Linked DNA regions of Homo sapiens: regions 1, 3 and 4 are each linked to region 2. The links come from fine-mapping of genetic effects on gene expression. A gene starts in region 2. Each other region holds a variant in brackets. All regions are shown on one strand. Distances are between the middles of the regions.

Region 1 (5,000 bases), 81 kb before region 2:
GTCTGCTCTTCTGATGGAGGGAGGGGAGGGGAGGGGAAAGAAGAAGAGAATGGTTTTATTCAATGATCAATTCTTTCCCCAGTCTACTACACAAGCCCCTTCCAGGCCAAGGGGATACCTTGAAATTCTGTTGTGCCTAAAAGGATGGTGTGCACATAACATATTTTGTTAAATGTTCCTGCGGACAGTAAAGATGATGGTGTTGGTGAACTAGAGGCAAGAGGCTTAAACAAACACACTCAGACAGAGGTCTTCAAGCCGTTGGCATTTATTTCTTTAGCTAAGATTCTGTTTCCAGATGCACAGCAGGCTCTCCCCATCCCTGAGCACTCAGCTCCAGGCTCCTTTCCCAGCTCCTTCTCCTGTCCCTTCCAGGGCCCTTGGCTCTTTGCCTTCTGAATACGCTCACCAGGAGATCTCATCCCCTTCCATCCTTCATTACCAGACATCTGTCTGTGCTGGGATCCACACTCTAGCTATGGTCCTACTAGTCGCATCCCACTGGTTTACATGTTGTGATGCGCTAAACCTCAAACTCAAGATGTCTGGAACTGAAATCCTCCTTTCCCAATTCTTCCTGATCCATTCCTTCAGTGCTCCCACCTCAGCAGGTGGCACCCTGGAGGTGCCCAGGGCACAAATACCAACACTCTTGACTCCTTGTCTCTTATTTAACTGCCAAATCTCTCATTTAACACTCTCTTAAATCTTCTATCTCCTCCACCACCTGCTTCAGGCCACCATCACCTGTGACCCCCCAATGACCTCCTCACTAGTGTTCCTGTCTTGAGACCTCTCCTTTCTCTAAGCCGTTATCCACCCTGCAGGATAAGTACAGTATGAGATTCATTAAAAACATGAACATGTTTCTTTAAAACCTTCACTAAATGGCTTCCCTCTAATACAGGAATAAAGTTCCAACAAGACCCACCATGATATGTCCCCTGCTTACCTCTCCAGCCTCACTGGTCACCCTTCTACTCCCACCATTGTCCTACAGCCTGATAAGCCCCCTCCAGCACTGTGGAATTACTAGCAGTTCCAAGGAGCCCTCAGCTCTCCCTCCTTGGGACTTTGCTCCCTCTGCAGAAACGTCCCTCTCCTTCTCCTTCACCTGGTTAAATCCTTCTACAAGGAGCCCTGCGTAGGTGCTTGTGGTACCTGTGCTTACCCCCATCATGGCCCATATCCCACGTGGCAGCCTTATGGGCCCTCTGAGAGCAGAGATTATGACTCTTTCATATCATACCACCCTGTAATTGGCAAACATCCAATGGATGTCTGAGAACTGAAGAAAATATGGGAGGTTGGGGGAGAACAAGGAAAAGACCTCAGGATTCTCTTCCAGTTGTTCTTCAACAATAAAGAAAGCACAAGGAAATAATAAGTTACAAGACTGAGTCTTTGATAATGTTGTTACCTGTTTCTTAAGCCTAGAAAATATACAGGAAATACCAAACATCCATAAAACTATTTAGCATACAGGACTGCATCTGAGAATCCCATAAACAGTCTCACTCCACAGACTCTGCAAAGGCAGAACCTACTCAAGAAGCAGAGAAAACACCTATCATCGGCAATTGGCTCCAAGTGGTCCCTCTGCTTCTGTTCACAAGTCATTTCTACTTTGAGTCTCCTAGGATATGTGTTTTTCCTTGGCAGAGAAACAAATGCTGATTGAAACGTATCCTAGGATGAGGTCATTCATTGTTCATTGACATTTGAAAAATAGTAAAGTACACCTTTATTCAATATTCTAGTACTGCATTGACCAAAAAACTATAGACACACACACACACACACACACACACACACACACACAGTCACATGTACTTCACACACACATATTCATATCCAAACCTTCGTATACACTATAAAATCTAGTTAAGGAGGGAAATTAATTATCCTTAGAATTTGTATAATGTATAAAAGGAAAACCAGAATGTACTCTTCATCTATAAATGTACAGATATATTTCCTGCAGACATGAATAGACTTTGTTTGGAAACTCTGCTAGCACCTTTGCTTATATTTTGCTGGGACTTCTTTTGTTAGCAAAGACCGGATATACCAAAAAAAAAAAAAGAGTAGATTCAAATCAAGGTTACTTGAGGATGCAGCTGCCACGCTGGAATTTTTCTTTCATCAAAATGCCCCAGAGAGTCCACATAAAGACAAGCTTGATCTATTTTATGAACAGGCTATTTACTGAGGAAACAAACCTACAAATATAATTAACTGCTCACTTAAACCTTAACCCTTAGCTCCTGAATCTTAACCAATATGTCTCATAAGATCACTTAATTCAGCAACTTACGCAGTACAGTCTGTTTATTCTATCTTTAAATTATAGAATTTATGTCTCTCCCCAAATTTCTTGTTTTCATTTTTCCTGAATTGCAATTAAACTGACAGCTGTATAAGAACCTTGCTTTTGCAG[G/T]GCACAGAGAACACTAAAGAAAAAAATGGGGAGTAGGGGAAAAAGGAAAAGGCCTTAGGGTTTTCTTCCAATTGTTGCAAAGCCTAGTATATAAAAGAACATAAAATATAATAAAGGCAGTATCACAAACCACTGAGTAAGGAATGGATTATTCAACATGGGACTGGGAAAAATGGGTAGGAAATTGAATTAGGATCTTAACTAAACTATAAATCCAAATAAATTCTAAATCTACTAAAGCAGGGCACAGCAAACTTTTTGCAAAGGGCCAGCTAGTAAATATTTTAGGTCAGCTGATAATATTTATCAGGTGACTTTATCAGCTGACTTAAATAAGTGTCTGTCCTAATGACTCAACTCTAGCACCATTAAAGCAGGCCTGGACAATATAAAAAAACAAATGTGGCTATGTGGCAATAAAACTTTATTTACAAAAACAGACAGCAGGCCAGATTTGCCCCATAGACTTAGTCTGCTAACCCTGAGGGGAAAAGACAAATAGTAAATAAACAAACAAATTCCAAAAGAAAATACTGGTGAATATCTGATCTCAGATAGGCAAGAATTTCTAAGCATAAAGGTAATGGAAGAAACCACAGAGGAAAAGATGGTTATGTATACCATTTACATTCAAACCTCAGTTAGTAAAATAAGTACCATAAAGAAATTAAACAAAATCAAAAGGCAAATGACAAAACAGAGAAACACGTGATGAAGATAACGAAGGATTTAGAGTTTGAAAGGTGTTATCTTTTGTTTCTCAAACTGGCAAAAATGATGCTAGCCAGGATCATATATAAAAAAAGCACTAATAGTCCCTGCTGCTAGGAGTGTAACTTGGATCAGTCATCACACAATAAAACAATATGCCTTAATAGGCCTTTAAAAAATTCATTCTTCGCAAGTTCACTTTTATAAATCTAGCCTACAAAAATAACTATAGATCCACACAGATTTTTGGGTAAAGATGTCTTCTGTAATCTCGATTTATAACAACCTAAATACTGAACAACAGAGAAGTATTTAAATAAATTCCCGTACATATATTACAATGGAATACTATACATATGTTAAATCATGTTTTAGCAGAACTTTATGGGCATAAGAAAATGCTCATAATAAAATACAGTAAGTGAAAAATGCATCAGAAATTTTTATGGACAATTATCCCTTTTTTAATATTTGCAGAAGCAGAGAAAAATATCAGAAAACACATACCACAAATTAAGCAGTTTTGGTTTCTGGGCTGTGAGTTATGGGTAATTTTTGTTTTCCTCTTATTCTTCTTTGTGGTCTCTAAATTTTCTACAGTACTTATGTATTCTAAATATAAAAGACAACAAATGTTACTTTTAAAAAGCAAAAAGCATGGTGGGGTGTGGTGGCTCACACCTGTAATCCCAGCACTTTGGGAGGCCAAAGTGGGTGAATTACTTGAGTTCAGGAGTTCCAGACCAACCTGACAACAAGGTGAAAACCCGTCTCTATAAGAAATACAAAAAGTTAGCTAGGCATGGTGGTGCTTGTCTGTAGTCCCAATTACTCAGGAGGCTTAGGTGGCAGGATGGTTTGAGCCCAGGAGGCAGAGGCTTTAGTGAGCCAAGATTGCACCACTGTACTCCAGCCTGGGTGACAGAGCCAGACCCTGTCTCAAAAAAATAAAATTTAGGCCAGGTGCAGTGGTTCACGCCTGTAATCCCAGCACTTTGAGAGGCAGAGGCGGGTGGATCACGAGGTCAGGAGATCAAGACCATCCTGGCCAACATGGTGAAACCCTGTCTCTACTAAAAATACAAAAATTAGCTGGGTGTGGTGGCACGTGCCTGTAATCCCAGCTACTCGGGAGGCTGAGGCACAAGAATTGCTTGAACCCAGGAAGGGGAAGTTGCAGTGAGTTAAGATTGCACCACTGCACTCAAGCCTGGTGACGGAAGAAGACTCCATCTCAAAAAAAATAAAAATAAAAATTTAATTTAATTTAAAAATTAAAAAATAAAAAGCAAAAAGGTCACTGCTTCTCACTAAGGCCATGGGAGAAATAGAAATCAACTTCAGCAAAGCAGTAGCAGCTTTATTCATCTGTTTCTACTCAGTATTTCTGCTGCTGCTCTTTACTTCTGAATATCCATGAAATAGCTATATCAACTCTAAAAGGGTGAAGACCTCTCAGAACAAACACATTCCAGCCCCCACAATGGAACATTTCAGAACTCTCCTGGGATGTTTAAGAATGCTCATGATCATGCTTCCAGAAGCAGAGGCAAAATTAGTGCTAATTTGAACCCTGATATGACTGTGTTACTTGCCTAAGTATACAGCAATCTAAGTCACTGTATTCTGTTCAACAGGTGACCCCATCATCAACTTCATAAATAGCAATGATGAAAACAAACTGCTCGAAGTCAGAAGAGGTGAACACAAACTTTCTTATCTTGAATTTTTAAAAATCTCCAAATAATCTTTCTGGAGGGTAGTCTGGCTATACATACCAAAATCCTTTAACAAGTAAATATATTTTGAGCTAGCTACTCCAGATCTGGAAATCTGCTAAGAAAACAAT
Region 2 (6,273 bases):
AGTCCATGAACCTGAACACATGAAAAATGAAGCTATTGAACAATGAAAAATGGATAAGCCCACATTATGTTTACATTTTAAAGCTTGTTTTTAATGGCAGCCTTTATCATCCACTGAACTATTTCATTTTGTTGTTTCTGATCTCATGACCATCCACTCATCAATACTTGAAGTGTGGGAAGAGCTACTAAACCCACACATAGTTTAATTTTTTTTAAATCCATCTGCAGAACTGCTTTATTAGCTAGATAAGAATATTTATTGAGCATTTATGTTGTGGGCATTGTATTAGTGCTGACCCAAGTTATCAGACACAGAGTAATTATTTCCATCTAAGGACAGATGCACAGACCATGGGATTCTGAACCTGGCGTGGTTGCTGCTCTGCCTCCTGAGAAGTCCAGGGTTACCTTACCTCACCTCTTAGACCTTCATACAACAAAGCCCGGCCAGAACTTATGTGGCAGGTGCACCTGCTGTGGCTCCCTGGCAGACACTGGAGCCACTAGAGGAAGTAAGCAGTGGCAGAGTACCAGGAAGGAGGTGGGGGGATGAGGTGTGTGGGTAATTTTCAGTATCTGTAAGCCCTCCCAGATTCTTCCTTCTGCAATTCAGAACCATCACAATGCATTTCCTATTTCCCATTCAGCCAGGGGCCCTCACATGCCAGAGCAGGCCCACCTGCTTCCCTGCATTTTGTATCTGTTCCATCACAGGTTTCATCAGACAAGTGACCACAGACAGACGAGACTAAGAGTTAAGACAACAGCCGGGCATCTGGCTCTTCATGCTTAAGGGTGTCCAGGGAAAACGGATGTACTACTAAAGTATCATGAGATAACACAGTTGGCAGCCTGTCACACGTGGGAATGGACACTCCTAGGTCACCATTAGTAGGCCATCCTCCGATGGGAAGGGCAGATATTCGGGGACTACTGCACATCAGCAGTGTTGTGTCTGCACCAGCACTCCTGGGCTCCATCTACACGGCTTATTAAACCAGTACCTGCAGCACTTTGGAAATCATGGCACACTGGTACACTTTATTTACTCTTCTTCTGCCTCAAATCCCTGATGACCACGGCAGGCCCCAGATAAAGGAACCAACTTCTGTGTGAGAACAGAAAAGATGCCAAAGAAGTTGCAGGCTTTATCCTTAACATGCACTGGCAAAACTCAGGAAGATGCAGGAAGCCACACAGAAGTTAGCTGGTTATGGAAGAGATGGCCAGGTTCTGGTCTATTCCCAACTCCTGCTCTACTCCTTACCTAATCGACTTCCCTAAAATAGAAAAATTAAATCCTTGTTTACTATGGATCAAACTGGAGTTGGAGAAATTTGGAGTTGGCAGAGCTAGCAATCGAGAGAAAATTCAAACTGAGCAAACTGGATATAGAAATCAGCGAAGCTTCATCTCCAATCTCCACAAACGTCATTCACGCAATTCTGTGTCTGCCCAGGAAGGGCATCGATCTGCCACCAAAATGATGCATCCGCCCCTGTGTTAAGGGGCCCGGCACTCTGCCCCGACAATCCCCCACAGGGCCCAGACAACCACTTCCAAGGCCCATCTTCTTGCACTGTTCCAACAAACACAAGTCACACCCACCCACAAACAAGCCCGTTTCAAGAAAACAAATGCCGGCGGCAACGCAAGGAGCTGCTAAAAGTTTCCAGCTGCCCTGCAGAGCTCGCTCCTGCTCAAACGTCGCTCCACTCCCGCACCATCCAGGTGAATCGGGTTGTAGTGCGTTTCCAAATACAGCAGGACCGGCGCTGGCTGTGAAAAAGTTAATCGAAAACTTCATCTTCCTCACACCCAGAGGCCTATTCTCTAAAGACGTTCTGCCACGGGAAGATTCGTTTTGGGCTGATGGCTTTGCTTACTTAGAACCCCCAAACGTCACAGGAATTTGCACCAATACTAAATTAGCGAGGGTTCCCATCATGCCCCCCAAGCCTTCCTAAAAGGCGGCCAAACTTCAGGATACCGGCTTGGAGGTGGGGGGCGCAGGAGAGGATGCCGAAGTCCTTCCCTCCTGGAGTTCAGCCAACTCAAAGGGTTAGCAGGGGCATCTCCCACCCTGAGCGCAGACTGGATGAGGAAGCCCCCACCTCAATTCCCCTGCGCCCCTCCAAAACATGGAAGGAGAGGGAGGCCGGGGGAGGGATACGGGGGAGGGATGCGGGGGAGGGGGGAGAGTGTAATTTCCCAGTTGACAGAAAGCAGGTAAATTGGGAGAGAGCGGGGTGAAAAGAGTGACAGGGCGACATCACTCTGCGGAAATTTCCCAGGAGGAAGGGGACAGCGATGGGGACAGGATCTTGGGTGGCGGGGAGGGGTCTGGGAGTTGCAGCCCCTCCAGGACCTTCTCTTCTCCCCTGTCCAACTCCCTCCCGCCGGCCCCACCTCTTGATTCCGCGGACCCAGCAGGGTCGGCCGCTCTGCCTCAGCCCTGCCGACTAAGAGGCGCCCGGCCCGGGGCCCGCAGCTGCCTGCGCCCCCGCCATCCTCCCCCGGCCCGCGGTCGTCCCGCACTCACCAGGAGCACGGAGCCGCGCACCACCTCAGACACGCTCTGCCGCAGCTCGGCCGCCGTGCCCGGCTTACTCAGCGCCCGGGTGAACTTCCGAGTCTCCGCCGAGGCGGGGAGCAGCGGCGGCTGCGACATCCTCCTGCCCCCGCCGCCTCCGCCTCCGCCTGCTCCCGCGGCCCGGCCCGGCCGCGCGGCCGCCAGGTGCGCCCTCGGCGCCCGGCCCGCTCCGCCCGCCGCTCCCGGCGCCGCCGCCGCCTGCTCCCCCCGCTGCTCGCCGCGAGTCCGGCCGCCGCAGCCCAGGCCGCGCCCTCTGCACCGTGTCACGCCCCAAGGCGCCCCCCTCGGCGTCCGCGGCCCCCCGCGATCGCAGCAGCGCCCGGGCTCGCTCCGGGCGACCGTGCGTGTGGCGGCGGCGGCTCCCCCATGCCACCAGCCTCCCTCGGCGACCACTCGCCGGGCCGCCTCCTCGGGGCGGGGTGTCCGGCGCGGCGCGGGCGGGGCGGGGCGCCCGGACGGCGGAGGAGGGGCCGCCGCGGCGGGACGGCGGGCCAGGCAGGTCGGCGCGGCCCGGCGCTGGAGCTAGGCGGCCGGACTGGCAGGGGCGGCGTGCCGCGCGGGACCCTCACTGGGGAAGGTGGGGGGTCGGGGCCGCCTCCGCCCCGGGCCGCACGTCCGAAGACCGGAGGAGGGGACTGCGCACGCCACCAAGAGGGCGCACAGCCGAGGCTGGACGATGCGCGGTTTCGGAGCAGGGTTTCCTGCCCAGGGAGCCCGGCTGCGCTCGAGGGGACCCCGAAGTCACCGGCAGGGTCGGAGCTCGGTGCACCACGCCCCCCCTCTGCGCCCGGGGCCTCTGCGGGGACAGAGGTCTCAGGAAAGTAGCCTTTATTTATGTGGCACCGATCGGAACCCGCGGCCGGCCAGGCGGACCTGGACGGAGCGTCCCTGCTCGGAACCTGGCGCGGGGCGCCGCGCGCTCGTGTGGCGCCTCGGCCTCCCCACCGTTCAGTCCCCGGAGGCACGGAGCTCGCGGCGGGACGATGACGGTTGGGCCGGGCCAGGCGTGGGAGACTCCCAGACTCCGGCCCGCCGGGACGGCCAGCTGCGTCACCTTGGACGTGGGCAATACTTCGGAGCCTCGGTTATGTCGCCTGTAACCTGAGGACAACGGCCTGGAAGGGGCTCAGGTGACACGGCGGCCCTCACTGGGGCCGATTTAGCCGGTCTGCCGCCCCTCCGCGCCGGACCGCCAGGCGGGGTACCAGGGAAACTGCGATGCGCCGGCTTGCGAGCCCACCGTGACGCAGAGCTGGCGGCCGCTAGCGACAGCCACCCTGTGAGGGACTTTCCCCCCAATACCCTAACCGCTTTCCTGTCCCTAAGGGCCCGCTCCCGCCCCGGCTCCGTTTCTGTCTCTCTGAGGAAGCCCGGCGCAGCCTAACCCTCACAGGGCCGCGGAGAGGGCGCGCCAGGCGGGGATTTGCGCCAGGCCCGCGGCGCATGCTCAGTGGTTGGGGACTGGGCGGGTACCCCGGGCGGGGAGCCTGACTGAACGGCGGCTCTGCTGATTGGTCGGGCTGCTCACGCCACGCCCGTTGCCTTCCGATGGACAGTTCCTTACCTGCCGGGTCGGCCTCCGCAGAGAGTGGTGGTCTTGAAAACCCAGTTTTGGGAGAATACCTGCCGCGCCTCCCGCCCAAATACCCAGAGGTTTCATAGCCGCCATCGCTGCGGTGGAGGAGGCCGCCTGTTGCGTCCCACCCCACCAGAAAGCCTAACACTGGCCTGAAGCGTAATCTTAAAGTGGTAGGGGAAAATACCGATCTAGCGCAGAGAGCAAAACACCTCCGTTCTGGGTTTAATGGGCAGGTCTGGAGGTGAGGTATGCCGTCCGCACTCAATAATTACTTGCAGGATCGGATTGTTTCTCCAGTGGGTGGGGACTGCAGGATGTAGCATTGAGTGAGCCTGGCAGATTGAAAGATAAAACAAGGGTGATGATAAAAACAATTACACACTAACCCATTTCCTCCTCCGTGAAATGAGGGAATGGCCCAGACATTTTCCAGACCTCTTCTGTCCTAAGAGTGGAGCTGGGTGACAGAGCAGGTGCAAGCCGGCCTTTCCCTGCCTCCCCGGGGAACGCACTCTGTTCGGTGAGAGCAACTCAGCTCGCATTGACTCCTTTCAGCTGCAGGAGTGTGGCCGTTCAGTTCTCATTTGAACTGTTGACAACAGTTGTCTTCTGAGAATCATGAGTTAGAGCCTCCCTTTAGGCTTCTGACTCCCTCAAAAGTACCAGACAACACAAACTTTTCCCCTCTTGTTACCTTGGCTCTCTAAGCTGTATCTACTTCTATACAAGGCGAACAATTTTGTCTTTTTAAATTAAAAACAACAACAAAAGCACCTAAGGTTGTAGGGTTTTATATTCTTTTTTCTTTTCTTTTTTTAAGAGCTATATGATTACAGTAGAGTGTGTGTGTGTGTGTGTGTGTGTGTGTGTGTGTGTAGTCTAAAGAACAAAATTTCAACAAATGGTTTTAAAGATCTAATTGGCTTCTATTAGCAATGCATGAACCAGGCAGCATTCTGACTACAAAATAGACGGGAGCTCTTGTGGGAATGGAAGAACAGCTGGGTTTTGTTAAGGTAACTTAAGCAGGAACAAGGGAAAAGCATAGTGCCGAAAGCACATCGGGTAACTTCAGGTTACTCTCCTTTATGGGTTAAAGCAGAGGGGGCTGCCTTAGCTGGCTCAGGCTGACTGGGCCCCGTTTGACTGGTTGCTGTGAATCTCCTGGTTTTTGGAAAACTGGCCCTTTTGGGGATTTTCCTGTTTTTTAAAATCTCTGTTTAGTTACGTGGCACCTAACACAGTGGCTTCATTTTAGTCTGGTCTGTTGGGGCCTAGTTCAGGAGCTCAGTCCAAGACAATGACCTACCATAAATTTTATTTAAATATATGTATATCTGGAAAGTGAAGAATTCCCCAAACCTACCAATTTTATCCATATCTCTACCACTCCTAAATTCTGTACTTACTTGCTGATTCAGTATATTCTAGAATTGGCAGATTTTCATTTAGGAAGCAGAGAACAACAGACAATGTGCCAACAGTAGTCACTGGCAATGTCTAACCAAGCACAGGTTCTGACAGACAAGGCGGCATGGAAACGTGAACTAAGCCCAGGAAGATGGACCCAGCAACCCAGAGTGGAGCCTCTTCTTCCTGGTGAAGTGCTGTTGATAACAAATGGGACATTCCTAGTGTTAAAGTTTCAGCAGAAACTTGGTCCCTACTGTTCTGGGTTGAATTGTAGTCCCCCAAAAGATATATTGAAGTTCCAAACCCAGTACCTGTGAATGTGGCCTTATTGGAAATAGGTCTTTGCACATGTAACCAACTTAAGGTGAGGTCCTACTGGAATAGGTGGGCCCTAATTCAGTATGAATGGTTGTTTGTTTGTTTGTTTGTTTGTTTGTTTTGACAGAGCCTCACTCTGTTGCCCAGGCTGGAGTGCTGTGGTGCAGTCTCAGCTCACTGCAGCCTCTGCCTCCCAGGAGGCTGGGATTACAGGCACCTGTCACCACACCTGGCTAATTTTTTGTATTTTTAGTAGAGAAGGGGTTTTGCCATGTTGGCCAGGCTGAGGTCAGGTCGAACTCCTGACCTCAGGTGATCCGCCCATCTCAGCCTCCCAAGGTGCTGGGATTACAGGCGTGAGCCACCAC
Region 3 (6,276 bases), 21 kb after region 2:
CCTCTGATATTTGAACTCTATACTGTTCTATTAATGCCCACAGAGTTTATCTTTTCCCTCTTCATCTTCCTTCTTCTTGCCACATGCATGTCCAGCCACTCTCTTTCTACATTTACATATCACACTAGAAAAAAATTTAAAAACCAAGTTCCATCAGGTCTAAACATAGCACAACAAGAACCCCTTGAATAGGAGGAAAAATTCCAGCCCAAGATTATAGTCCTAGGGTTTGATTTTGCTTGGACTTTCAGGCAATGATTATTCAGTCTTTGCCATTGTCTAGAGCAAGGGTCAGCAAACTTTCTGGAAAGGACCAGTTAGTAAATATTGTAGGCTTTGCTGGCCAAAACGTCTCTGTTGCAACTGCTCCTCTCTGTCACTGTGGTGCTGAAGCCGCCATAGGTAATACAAAAATTGACAAGCATGGCTGTGTTCCAGTGAAACTCTATACGCATGGAAATTTGAACTTTGTATAATTTTCACTTGACATGAAATATTATTCTTCTTTTGACTTTTTTTCAATAATTTCAAAACGTAAACCATTCTGAGTTTATGGCCAATGCAAAAACAGGTAGCAGTAGAGATTCAACACAATGCCTATCAAAATTTCAACTACATTTTTTGTGGAAATTGACAAACTGACCCTAAAATTCATATGGAAATCCAAGGGCCCCAGAATAGCCAAACTAATCTTGAAAACAGCAAAGCTGGCGATTCACATTTTCTGATTTCAAAAATAACTATACAGCTTCAGTAATCAAGACTGTGGTGTTGGCATAAGGATAGACATATAAATCAGTGGAGTAGAATTAAAACTCTAGAAATAAGCCCATGAATTTATGGTCAATTGATTTTTGACAAGTGTGCAGATAAAATTAATGCGGAAAAATAGTTCTTTCAAAAAATTGTCCTGGGACACCTTGATATCTTCATGAAAAAGAATAATGTTGGAACCTTACCTTATACCATGTGTAAAAATTAACTCAAAATAAATCAGACCTAAATATAACAGCTAAAACTATAAAACTCTTAGAAGAAAATATAGGCATAAATCTTCACAACCTTGGGTTAGACAATGGTTTCTCAAACACAACACCAAGAGAGCTCAAGCAACCAAAGAAAAATTATATAAATTGGATTTCCTCAAAATGAAAAACATTGGTGCTTCAAAGGACACTATTAATAACATGAAAAGATATCTCATCAAATAGGATAAAATTTTTACAAATCATATAACTGATGAGACTTGTATTTAAGATACATAAAGAACACCTACAATTCAAAGATAAATGACTCAATTAAAAGTGGACAAAGAACCTAATTAGACATGCTCAAAGAAGATATACAAATAGCCAATAAGCACATGCTCAACATTATTAGCCATTAGGAAAATACAACTGAAAGACGTGAAAAACTATTCATAGCTAGGCACAGTGGCAGGCTTGTAATCCCAGCATTTTGGGAGGGCGAGGCAGAAGGATCACTTGACACTAGGAGTTCACAACCAGCCCAGGCAACATAGCAAGACCCCAGTTTCTACAAAAAAAATTTTTTTTAATTAGCCGAGTGTGGTGGGGTATGCATGTGGTTCCAGGCTGAGGCAGGAGGATGACTTGAGCCCAGAAGGCTGAGGCTGCAACAAGCTGTGATCATGCCACTGCACTCCAGCTTGGATGATGTCTCAAAAAAAAAAAAAAAAAAAAAAGTAAAACCATTCATACTCATTAGTATAGCCATAATTTAAGAGAGATAATAAGTATTGGTGAGGATGTGGAGAAATTAAAACCCCCATACACTGCTGATGGGTATATAAAATGGTGCACCTGCCTTGGAAAACCGTTTGGCAACTCCTCAAATGATTGAACATAGAGTTGCCATATGATCAAGCACATCCTCTCCTAATTATATATCCAAGAGAGTTGAAAACATATATTCACACACAAACTTGTGTACAAATGTTTATAGCGGCATTAGTCATAATATCAAAAAAAGGAAGCAACCTAAATGTCCATCAACTGGTAAACAGACAAACAAAATGTATTTTAACCATACAATTGAATGTTATTCAGCCATAAAAAGGAATGAAGTATTAAAACCTGCTACAACATGTATGAGCCTTGAAAACAGTATGCTAAGTGAAAGAAGCCAGTCACAGAAGACCACATATCATATAATTCTATTTTTATGAAATGTCCACAGTAGGCAAAGAGATAGAGACAGAAAGTAGATCAGCAATTGCCTAGGAGAGTGAATAGCGTGGAAAGATTGAGGGCGACAAATAAGAGGTGTAAGATGTCTTTTTAGAATAATGAAAATGACTCAAAATTGATCACGATGACAGATGTGCAAACTGAATTTTAATCAAAAGCCATTGAATTTTTCTAAAAATGAAAAAGATCTCAAATTAGCAACATAATCTTCCGTGTTAAGATACTGGAAAAAGAAGATCATCCAAAACAAACCCAAGAAAGGTAAAAGAATTAAGGCCGGGCATGGTGGCTCGTGCCTGTAATCCTAGCACTTTGGGAGGTCAAGGCAGATGGATCGCTTGAGCCTAGGAGTGCGAGACCAGCTTGGGCAACATAGGGAGACCCCACCTCTCCAAAAAGTACAAAAGTAGCCAAGTGTGGCGGCGCATGTCTGTAGTCCCAGCTACTAAGGGAGCTGAGGTGGGAGAATCGAGCCCAGGAGGTTGCACTCCAGCCTGGGTAACAGAGTGAGAGTCTGAAGAAGGAAGGAAGGAAGGAAGCAAGGGAGGAAGGGAGGAAGGCAGGAAGGGAGGAGGGGAGGAGGGGAGGAAGCGAGGAAGCGAGGAAGGGAGGAGGGGAGGAGGGGAGGAAGGGAGAAAGAGGAAAAGGAGGAAGGGAGGAAGGGAGGAAAGGGAAGGGAGAAAGGAAGGAAGAACGAAGGAAGGGAGGGGAAGGGAAGGGAGGGAAGAAAGGGAAGAGAAGGGGAGGGAAGGGAGAAAGAAAGAGGGAGAGAGGGAGGGAGGGAAAGAGAGAGAGAAAGAAAGAAAGGGAGAGAGAAAGAAAGAAAGAGGGAGGGAGGGAGGGAAAGAAAGAGAGAAAGAAAGAAAGAAAGAAAGAAAGAAAGAAAGAAAGAAAGAAAGAAAGAAAGAAA[G/A]ATTGATTAAAATCATACGTAGTGTGTTCCCAGATTACAGTGGAATCAAACTAGAAATTAGTCACTTGGAAACTAAACAACACACTTCTAGATAGTTCAGGGGCCAGAGATGAGGTCTCAGGAGAAACTGAAAAAAAAAATACATTAAATTGAATGAAAATGAAAATATAACATATCGCCGGGCGCGGTGGCTCACGCCTGTAATCCCAGCCCTTTGAGAGGCCGAGACGGGCGGATCACGAGGTCAGGAGATCGAGACCATCTTGGCTAACACGGTGAAACCTCATCTCTACTAAAATACAAAAAATCAGCCGGGTGTGGTGGCATGCACCTGTAGTCCCAGCTACTCAGGAGGCTGAGGCAGGAGAATGGCGTGAACCCGCGAGGCGGAGCTTACAGTGAGCCGAGATCGCACCACTGCAGTCCGGCCTGGGCTACAGAGCAAGACTCCATCTCAAAAAAAAAAAAAAAAAAAAAAGAAAATATAACATATCAAAACTTGTAGGACAAAGCAATTCTAAGAGGGAAATATATAAGTACTGTACTAAGTGCATATATTTTTATAGAGAAAAAAACCCTAAAATCAGTAATTTAAAATTCCACCTTAAGAGCTAGAAATAAAAAAGAGAAAAATATAGGCTGGGTGCAGCATACCTGTAATCTGAGCACTTTGGGAGGCCATAGGTCGCTTGAACTCAGGAGTTCAAGACCAGCTGAGTAACATGACAAAACTCTGTCTCTACAAAAACTACAAAAATTAGCCAGGCATGGTGGCACACGCCTGTGGTCCCAGCTACTCAGGAGGCTGAGGTGGGAGGATCACTTGAGCCCATGCAGTCAAGGTTGCCACGAGCCAATATCAGGCCACTGTACTTCAGCCTGAGTGACAGAGCCAGACCCTGTCTAAAAAAAAAAAAAAAGAAAAAAAAATTGTTTTAAAGAGCAAAATAAACTCAAAGCAAGTAGAAGGAAAGAAATAAAGTGCAGAAATCAACAACACTGAAAATAGAAAAACAATAGAGAAAAATTAACGAAACAAAAAGATGGTTCTTTGAAAAGATCAATAAAATTGACAAACCTTTAGCAAGACAGACAAAGAAAAAAGAGACAAGATACAAATTATCAATATCAGGAAGGAAAGAGAAGACATCACTACAGACCCTGCAGACATAAAAAGATAACAAGGAAACACTATTAATAACTCTACATACATACATTTGACAAATTAAAATACATGGACCAATTTCTTGGAAAAAAAAAAAACAAAAAACAAAACAAAAAAAAATGACATGCCAGGCACGGTGGCTCATGCCTGTAATCCCAGCACTTCAGGAGGTTGAGGTGGGTAGATCACAAGGTCAGGAGTTCATGACCAGCCTGGCCAATATGGTGAAACCTTGTCTCTACTAAAAATACAAAAAAAATTAGCCGGGCATGGTGGCATATGCCTGTAATCCCAGCTACTTGGGAGGCTGAGGCAGGAGAACTGCTTGAATCTGGGAGGCAGAGGTTGCAGTGAGCCGAGATGGCGCCACTGCACTCCAGCCTGGGTGACAGAATGAGATTCCGTCTCAAAAAAAAACAAAACAAAACAAAACAAAAAAAACCTACAATTCTTCCAATATGAAAAACATCATTTGAATGGTCCTATGCATAAAGGAAGCTTAATTTACAATTTTAAAATTTCCAAAAGGGAAATCTGCAGGCGCTAATGGTTTTCCTGGACAATTCTCCTAATGTTTAAAGAAGAATTAACACTAATTCTATACACTCTCTTCAGAAGAATAAAAGAGGAAGGAACAATTCTCAGGTTTTTAAATGAAGGCAGTATTCTCGATTTATTTTTACTGAAACTATTTGACGATTACAGGCTCATGCCTGTAATCCCAGCACTTTGGGAGGCCAAGGCAGGAGGATTGCTTGAGGCCAGGAGTTCGAGACCAGACTGGGTAATATAGCAAGACCCTGTTTCTAAAAAAAAAAAAAAAAAAAAAAAATTGTTGGGTGTGGTGATGTGCACCTGCAGTCTGAGCTACTCAGAAGGCTGAGACAGGTGGGTCACTTGAGCCCAAGAGTTGGAGGTTACAGTAAGCTATGGTTGTGCCACTATATTCCAGCCTAGGTGACAGCACTGAGATCCTATCTCTAAAAAGAAGGGAAAAAGAAGGCAGAAAAAAGGGAAAATCTTTGGGGCCTAGGACGGGGCAGAGTTCTTGGACTCTTCATCAAGAGTATGATCCCTAAAAGGAAAATGTAACAAATTGGGTTTTCCTCATCCATTGCTGACACTTTCCTGATATTATCAGAAGGTATCAATGGAATGTTTTCTGACAACACCAGGACTCATACTCTTCCCACGTGTGGATCTTAAATGGTTTATTGATTAAATACCAGGGATGTCCGTTGTCCAGTTATTCAACTATGAATAACAACCAAGGTCATATGTTCACAGGCAATGACCATTATCATGGTCTCTCTGTCAATAATGATTATCATGCTATCACTTTTAAGACAGATCCACATTTCTGTGGTGTAAAAATGCAGGAGGGAAATGTGCAACACAGTTTCTATTGCTATTCGTGTCTAGTGAACCTTTCTTAAAGCATAATGAATGCTATAAAACACATCTGAAGGCACTTTAGGGGATCCTAGGGTAGAATATTTCCTCTCACTCCCATTCAGCCATCCAGGGAGCGTTCCCATCTCACGAATAAAGTATGTAGTTTTCCATAAAACACACATTATCAAATAAAAGGAATACTTAAATCTAAGGTATAATTATATATAATTATATGGAACAAATATAATTATATAAATGTGTATTTTACATACACCTTATTATTATTGATTTACAAGGTTGTGATTACTTCGTTGGGGTTGCCATAGCAATGAACTTATTAAATAGAGAAATACTTTCATTTTTCAGCATTAAAAATGAATAATCAAAATCAACCATTGGACCTAATATATCCAACTCTTAATTATCTGCAATTATCAAAGATTAGTTGACCTTTGAAGATGATATACAATAGCAGCTTCTGGAAGAGAGGAGAAAAAGATTTCCCAAGGTGGTAGGACCACCACTATGGAAGGTGAGGAATGTGATTTGTGGGAGAGTCCAGTGGTTCCTTCCCCACTCCTCTTTTCCTACTCAAA
Region 4 (5,000 bases), 32 kb before region 2:
TTTGCATTTCCCTGATGATTATTGATGTTGAGCATTTTTCCATATACCTGTTGGCCACTTGTATGTCTTCTTTTGAAAAATGGCTATTGCCCTTTTTTTTGGGGAGGTTTGTGGGGGTAGACACAGGGTCTCACTGTGTCACCCAGGCTGGAGAGCAACGCAGTGGTGCAATCATGGTTCACTGCAGCCTCGAACTCCTGGGCTCAAGTGGTCCTCCTACGTCAGACTCCTAAGTAACTGGGACTATAGACACATGCCACCACACCAGCCTTCTTTTTTTTTTTTTTTAAGTAGAGACCAGGGTCTCACTATGTTGCCCAGGCTCTTTGCCCATTTTTTAACTGAGTTGTTTTCTCACTTTGAGTTGAGTTTTTTATATGTTTTGGATATTAATCCCTTATCAGATGTACAATTTGCAAATATATCCTCCCATTCCATTGGCTGTCTCTCCACTCTATTGATGCTAATGAATTTCTAATGGTAGGTTTTTCAGGCCTCAGTAGGGATTCGCCGTTGGGATGAAGTCTCTCCCATTACTCCTTCAGTCAAACCACTTCCAGTTCCCAATTTCTTGGTTGTCTCCAGGAGCCCAGTTCCTAAACACACCTGAAAATAAAATAGATTACCACTAACATCACTCCTGCGCCCTCTCCCAGCTGCCACTGTGTTCACATCCCTACTGTCCTTTTCTATTGAAATCAGATAAGAATTATGTCCACAGTAACTTAAGCCACAGAGATTTCAAGAGCTTTGTTAAATGACAAAATTTCCTAAGCCTATACAAATTTGCAGGAGAGCAAAGAAGATAAATTTTGTCACTCTTGTTCAGAATTCTAAGCTACTATAAATAATTTCCCATGCAAATCACGTTTTGTGGCAGAAGGAAAAAACCAGCAACCTTAATACATATTTCTAAAATAGCTCATTATGCTTCTAAGAAAAAAACTTAGAATATAAATTTAATTATTCAAATTCAATATAATTTAATTAAATGTAATTGAATTAAATTGCTTTCTAAGGTATTCTTTCTGTAAGCCACTTGAACCAAGAAAGCCACCTGGTTTTATTTAAAGCCAATGGTAAGAACTTTCTGAGACAAGGAGAAACCTCTGTAACTCAGACCCTTGTACAAAAGAATTAAAGAAATTAAAACCGGGAACCAGGTTTCAGTAACTGCAGGAGGGTTCTCCTTCCTGCCAGGGCCTGGAGTGAGGATCAGTTACTGTAACCAAGAAACCTCAGACTGTTACCTGGTCCCCAGCGATAGCACAACATGTGGCCTGGGCCCATCAGATAGCACACACTTGAGGGTTATTACAAGAGGAGCGAAGCACCCCACACCCTCCACCTCCCCTCACTCACCCTCCTACTCCCAAGAAAACACCAGGAGGTTTTGGAAGCAGGGTTAATCTTGCATTGAAAAAAAAACACAAAGCAGATGGGGCTGAGTTAGTCTGACTACCACATCTCAAAGAAGATTATCTGCCTAACACGGTAAGCAAGAAAGGGGAGTCATGAAGAAGTCAAAAGCCAAAACCAGGGGTGAATTTCTGCATAGATCATTTTTCACTGTCTTCCTTTTCCACTGTAAGACACTGCAATTCTTTGCCGCATCTCAAAAGAGGAGACTCTTCTGGTGGCTCACTCTAAAATCTAGTTCATGGGGATTACTCAGGCATATTTATAAACCCAATGGCTGCAAAATTACAAATATTAGTGCTCTCACTTAGAAAAAAAACAGCCTTGGTCTAGAGTAATTAAAACATAAAAACATTACTCTCCATGCTCTGAGACCCTTAATGGGGTAATTTGTGGCCTCGCCAAAAATTTGAAAGGTGGGCTTCCATGGCCCACTATAACCTAGAGCTCTAGACCAACATAGCCTCACCCAGAATCTTTGTACATCCTAACAACCAGACACTGACACTGAGCTCACAACAGCAGAAATAATAGCAATGGTAATAAAGCAGGTTTTACAGAATAGCTGAGAAAGCCACACAAGTCCACATAAAGCAGTTAAGTCCCTAACTGTGATAAATCTAAAAACTTGGTTTGCTGTTAGTTGTTGGTTGGACAGGGTTTGAGGGCAAGCAAGAGGGAAGGCATAAGCCCAGAATCACATCTAAGTTCTTCCATTGCTACTGCCCTGCCTCAAGCATAAAGCACAATAGTCTGATGAAACCTGCTCCTCTTTTTACCTTTGCCATGTTAAGTTCTCTCTCCTAAGCTGGGAGATTCTTAACTACGCCAGTATCACCAGCAAATCAAGCACTATCACAAGCACCATCAGGCTGAAGTTAAGGGATGAGGCTGAACCTTATACCACCTTCCATCTGTGCTTGCCTTTACTACGAGAAAAATTTTAAATGAATATCCCACAGAGAAGACAAAAAAGATGGCACCTCAGTTTTAAAGTGCCTTCTTCACTTACTTTCCTAACTTAGGAGAGGTTTTCAGTCATCCATTTCACAAACCAAAGAGCTAAATCAGTCATGAATTGCTAATAGTAGAAATGAAGCAGGGAAAGAATTGCCTCATCCACTTTTTTTGCACAAAGGTTCTGCTATGAAATTTTCTTGAATGAACATATGAATGAATGGCCCATTACTCTACTACTATGGATTAGCAAAAAATAATAATTTGAAACAACCGGGGTATCTAGTTAAAGGGTACACCAGGACTTCCTTATACTATCCTTGACTTTTCATATAAGTCTGAAATTAAATAAAAGTTCCAAAAAACAGAATGGGAAGAAAATAACTTGCCCTCTGTGTAGGGTAGGGTCCCATTGGAGATTAGCACTAAAGGAACTTTCTACAAACTTTCAAAAACAAAATCTGTGTCCCCATGCGGTAGCAGGAAAAGAGGACTCCCTGTGAGAAATGAGAAAGGAAGAGGCGATTCTGTGTGAACAGGAAGTGGGAACGTCTGCGTTGGCTGGGCAGCCTCCAGTGCGGGGAAGGGGGCATCGCACCTAAGAGAAAGCGAGCCGGTGCTTAACTGTGGAGGGGACCGCAATG[G/C]GAGAAATTAGAAGAGAGGAGCAGCCAGGCGCACAGGGTCAGTTGTGCAGGGCAGAGCAGGAAGAGAGGCATATGGAATGTGGATTGGGATTTTAATGGAAAACTATATGCAGTTCTTTGTGGCCTAAGCTGTATTACTCAATTACATTGATAATATTGACTACATTGATATTATTAATAAGTTATACTATTACCATAATATTGCACACAGTTGTCAACTGTTCTCTAGGTTCCTAACAGCTGTGCCTAATAAGCCTGTACAGCCTTTCTCCAGCCTTAAATGAAGACAGACACTAGATACAGGCTAAGACAGCTTTTAACATATACTAGCTGTCTGCAGTGACTAGACCCAGGATCTGAGGCCTATGATAAATTCCTAGGCCAAAGAATCTGGGATTTTTTTCAGAAATCAGCCAAGCTTTCCAAAAGCACTGTCAGGACCAAATATCAGCTGCACTAAGCATCACAGGGACGTGGAATGGTAACAACAAAAGTGCCTTTGTAGCTGAATGAAACAGAACCTGGTCTGGTTACTGTATTCTATACCAAAGCCTTTGAAGATGACAAATTTAAATTCCACAAGGTCTTTCCAGTTTAGTGAACATAGAGAGTTTCCCTGGAAATATATATTTTTTTCCTGTAAACGGAGTGCCAAATGTTTTGATCATTTTTAGAATATATATGTAAAAAATACTTTTGAAAGTGCAATTGTGAGATGTTTCACCATACAAACTAATAACAGGCAATTCAGCTTCCCTGGCTATCCAATCATTGCTTGTTTGACATTGTTTGGGCACATTAAATGGTACTGATAAAGTTGTTTGAGAGTTTGTCTTTTAAAGCAACAAATCTTACTGGAAAACATTATCAAAGTAAGGTTACATACTAAATATGCAAAAGTATTATAAAGATACATTAATATCTTTAAAAAAGATAAGTAATATTAGTTTATACATTAACTGAGGGGAAAAAAGATATTATGTCTGTAATGATTCAACTAGGTGTGGCCCAGACTTGGCTAAAAAACCAGCTCCCAGTCACCCAGAGCAAAGAAATGAGCAACCTAGAAGTCATTTCTGGATGGATTTATGTTTGGGGGCAACAAACTCCTCCCCCACCAATTCTATTTTCTCAGCTAAAATAAATTTAATGGAGAGTACACCTGCTGGGGTGGCTGCCCGGCACCTCCCTTTCCCTGTAACGTGTTGTTTTTCTGAGATGTCCTCTTTCCCTTCCCCCAGTGGCAATCAGGGTCATTCATGCCAGGTCTGATGCAAGGCCCCCCAGGACAGGCCTTCCCTGGAGGCCAAGGAGCAGCTCCTCGCCCTGAGGAAAGACAGTGGCCCTGAGGAGCCATGCGTACAGCAGCGGGGATCCGAGAAGCCACATTCCTACAGATGACCCCATGACTTGGTATCGGACCCAATGTGGATCACCTCCCTGGGGGATTAGAGCAGCCTGAGAGAAGGACCAGTTTCTTGCCAAGTAGCTGGTCTCTCAGACAGCGAATTCCTACCATGTAGACTAGAAGCAAAGAAAGTCAATCTCCAGGCAGAGGACCCAAAAACTCTAGAGAGCAGCCGAGATAAGAGAGGATCTTGAAGGCTGGGACCCCCTCAATACACTCAGCTGGACCCCCACCCTTTAGTTCTTGGAGACATACTGTGTCCTTACAACATATATCCCTTTTTTCCTTTAATTACTTGGAATGAGTTTCTGTCACTTGCAACCAAGAGTCCAAATTAACACATCTAATTCCTAGCATACAGACAAGAAAAAATAAGTAGTAGTCTCAAAATGTTACGAGTTGACATATTGGGCCTGAAATCTTACAGCACAAAACAGGTAACCACTGAATAGGGGGAAAATGGTATTCTTAAATCTTAATTTTGAGACAATTACCCTGCCACTAAGGCACGGTAAGTCCTGGGTGAGCTGAGGACCAGATCTTCATTGCGCCTCTGATTTCTTTACTAAGCC

Evidence for each region. PIP is the estimated chance that this variant, and not a neighbour inherited with it, causes the effect.
Region 1: its variant is the best candidate, but not a certain one, in a credible set for the expression of DOCK9-DT in tibial artery (GTEx, PIP 0.52).
Region 3: its variant is the best candidate, but not a certain one, in a credible set for the expression of DOCK9-DT in whole blood (TOPMed, PIP 0.62).
Region 4: its variant is the best candidate, but not a certain one, in a credible set for the expression of DOCK9-DT in aorta (GTEx, PIP 0.57).

The regions. Positions count from the first base shown.
Region 1 is chr13:99,003,000-99,007,999 of GRCh38, forward strand. It overlaps a transcript of DOCK9 not described here. Among named protein-coding and RNA genes, the nearest start is that of DOCK9, 27 kb to the left of the region's middle. The variant G/T (reference allele first, on the strand shown) is at 2,441.
Region 2 is chr13:99,083,679-99,089,951 of GRCh38, forward strand. DOCK9-DT (DOCK9 divergent transcript) reads left to right here and starts at 3,045. Exons shown (of 1, transcript NR_047482.1): 1 at 3,045-4,947. It also overlaps a transcript of DOCK9 not described here. RefSeq lists silencers at 2,377-2,856, 2,897-3,206, 3,297-3,356, 3,937-4,166 and enhancers at 3,047-3,608, 4,171-4,730.
Region 3 is chr13:99,105,047-99,111,322 of GRCh38, forward strand. No RefSeq gene overlaps it. Among named protein-coding and RNA genes, the nearest start is that of DOCK9-DT, 21 kb to the left of the region's middle. The variant G/A (reference allele first, on the strand shown) is at 3,121.
Region 4 is chr13:99,052,495-99,057,494 of GRCh38, forward strand. It overlaps a transcript of DOCK9 not described here. Among named protein-coding and RNA genes, the nearest start is that of DOCK9-DT, 32 kb to the right of the region's middle. The variant G/C (reference allele first, on the strand shown) is at 3,021.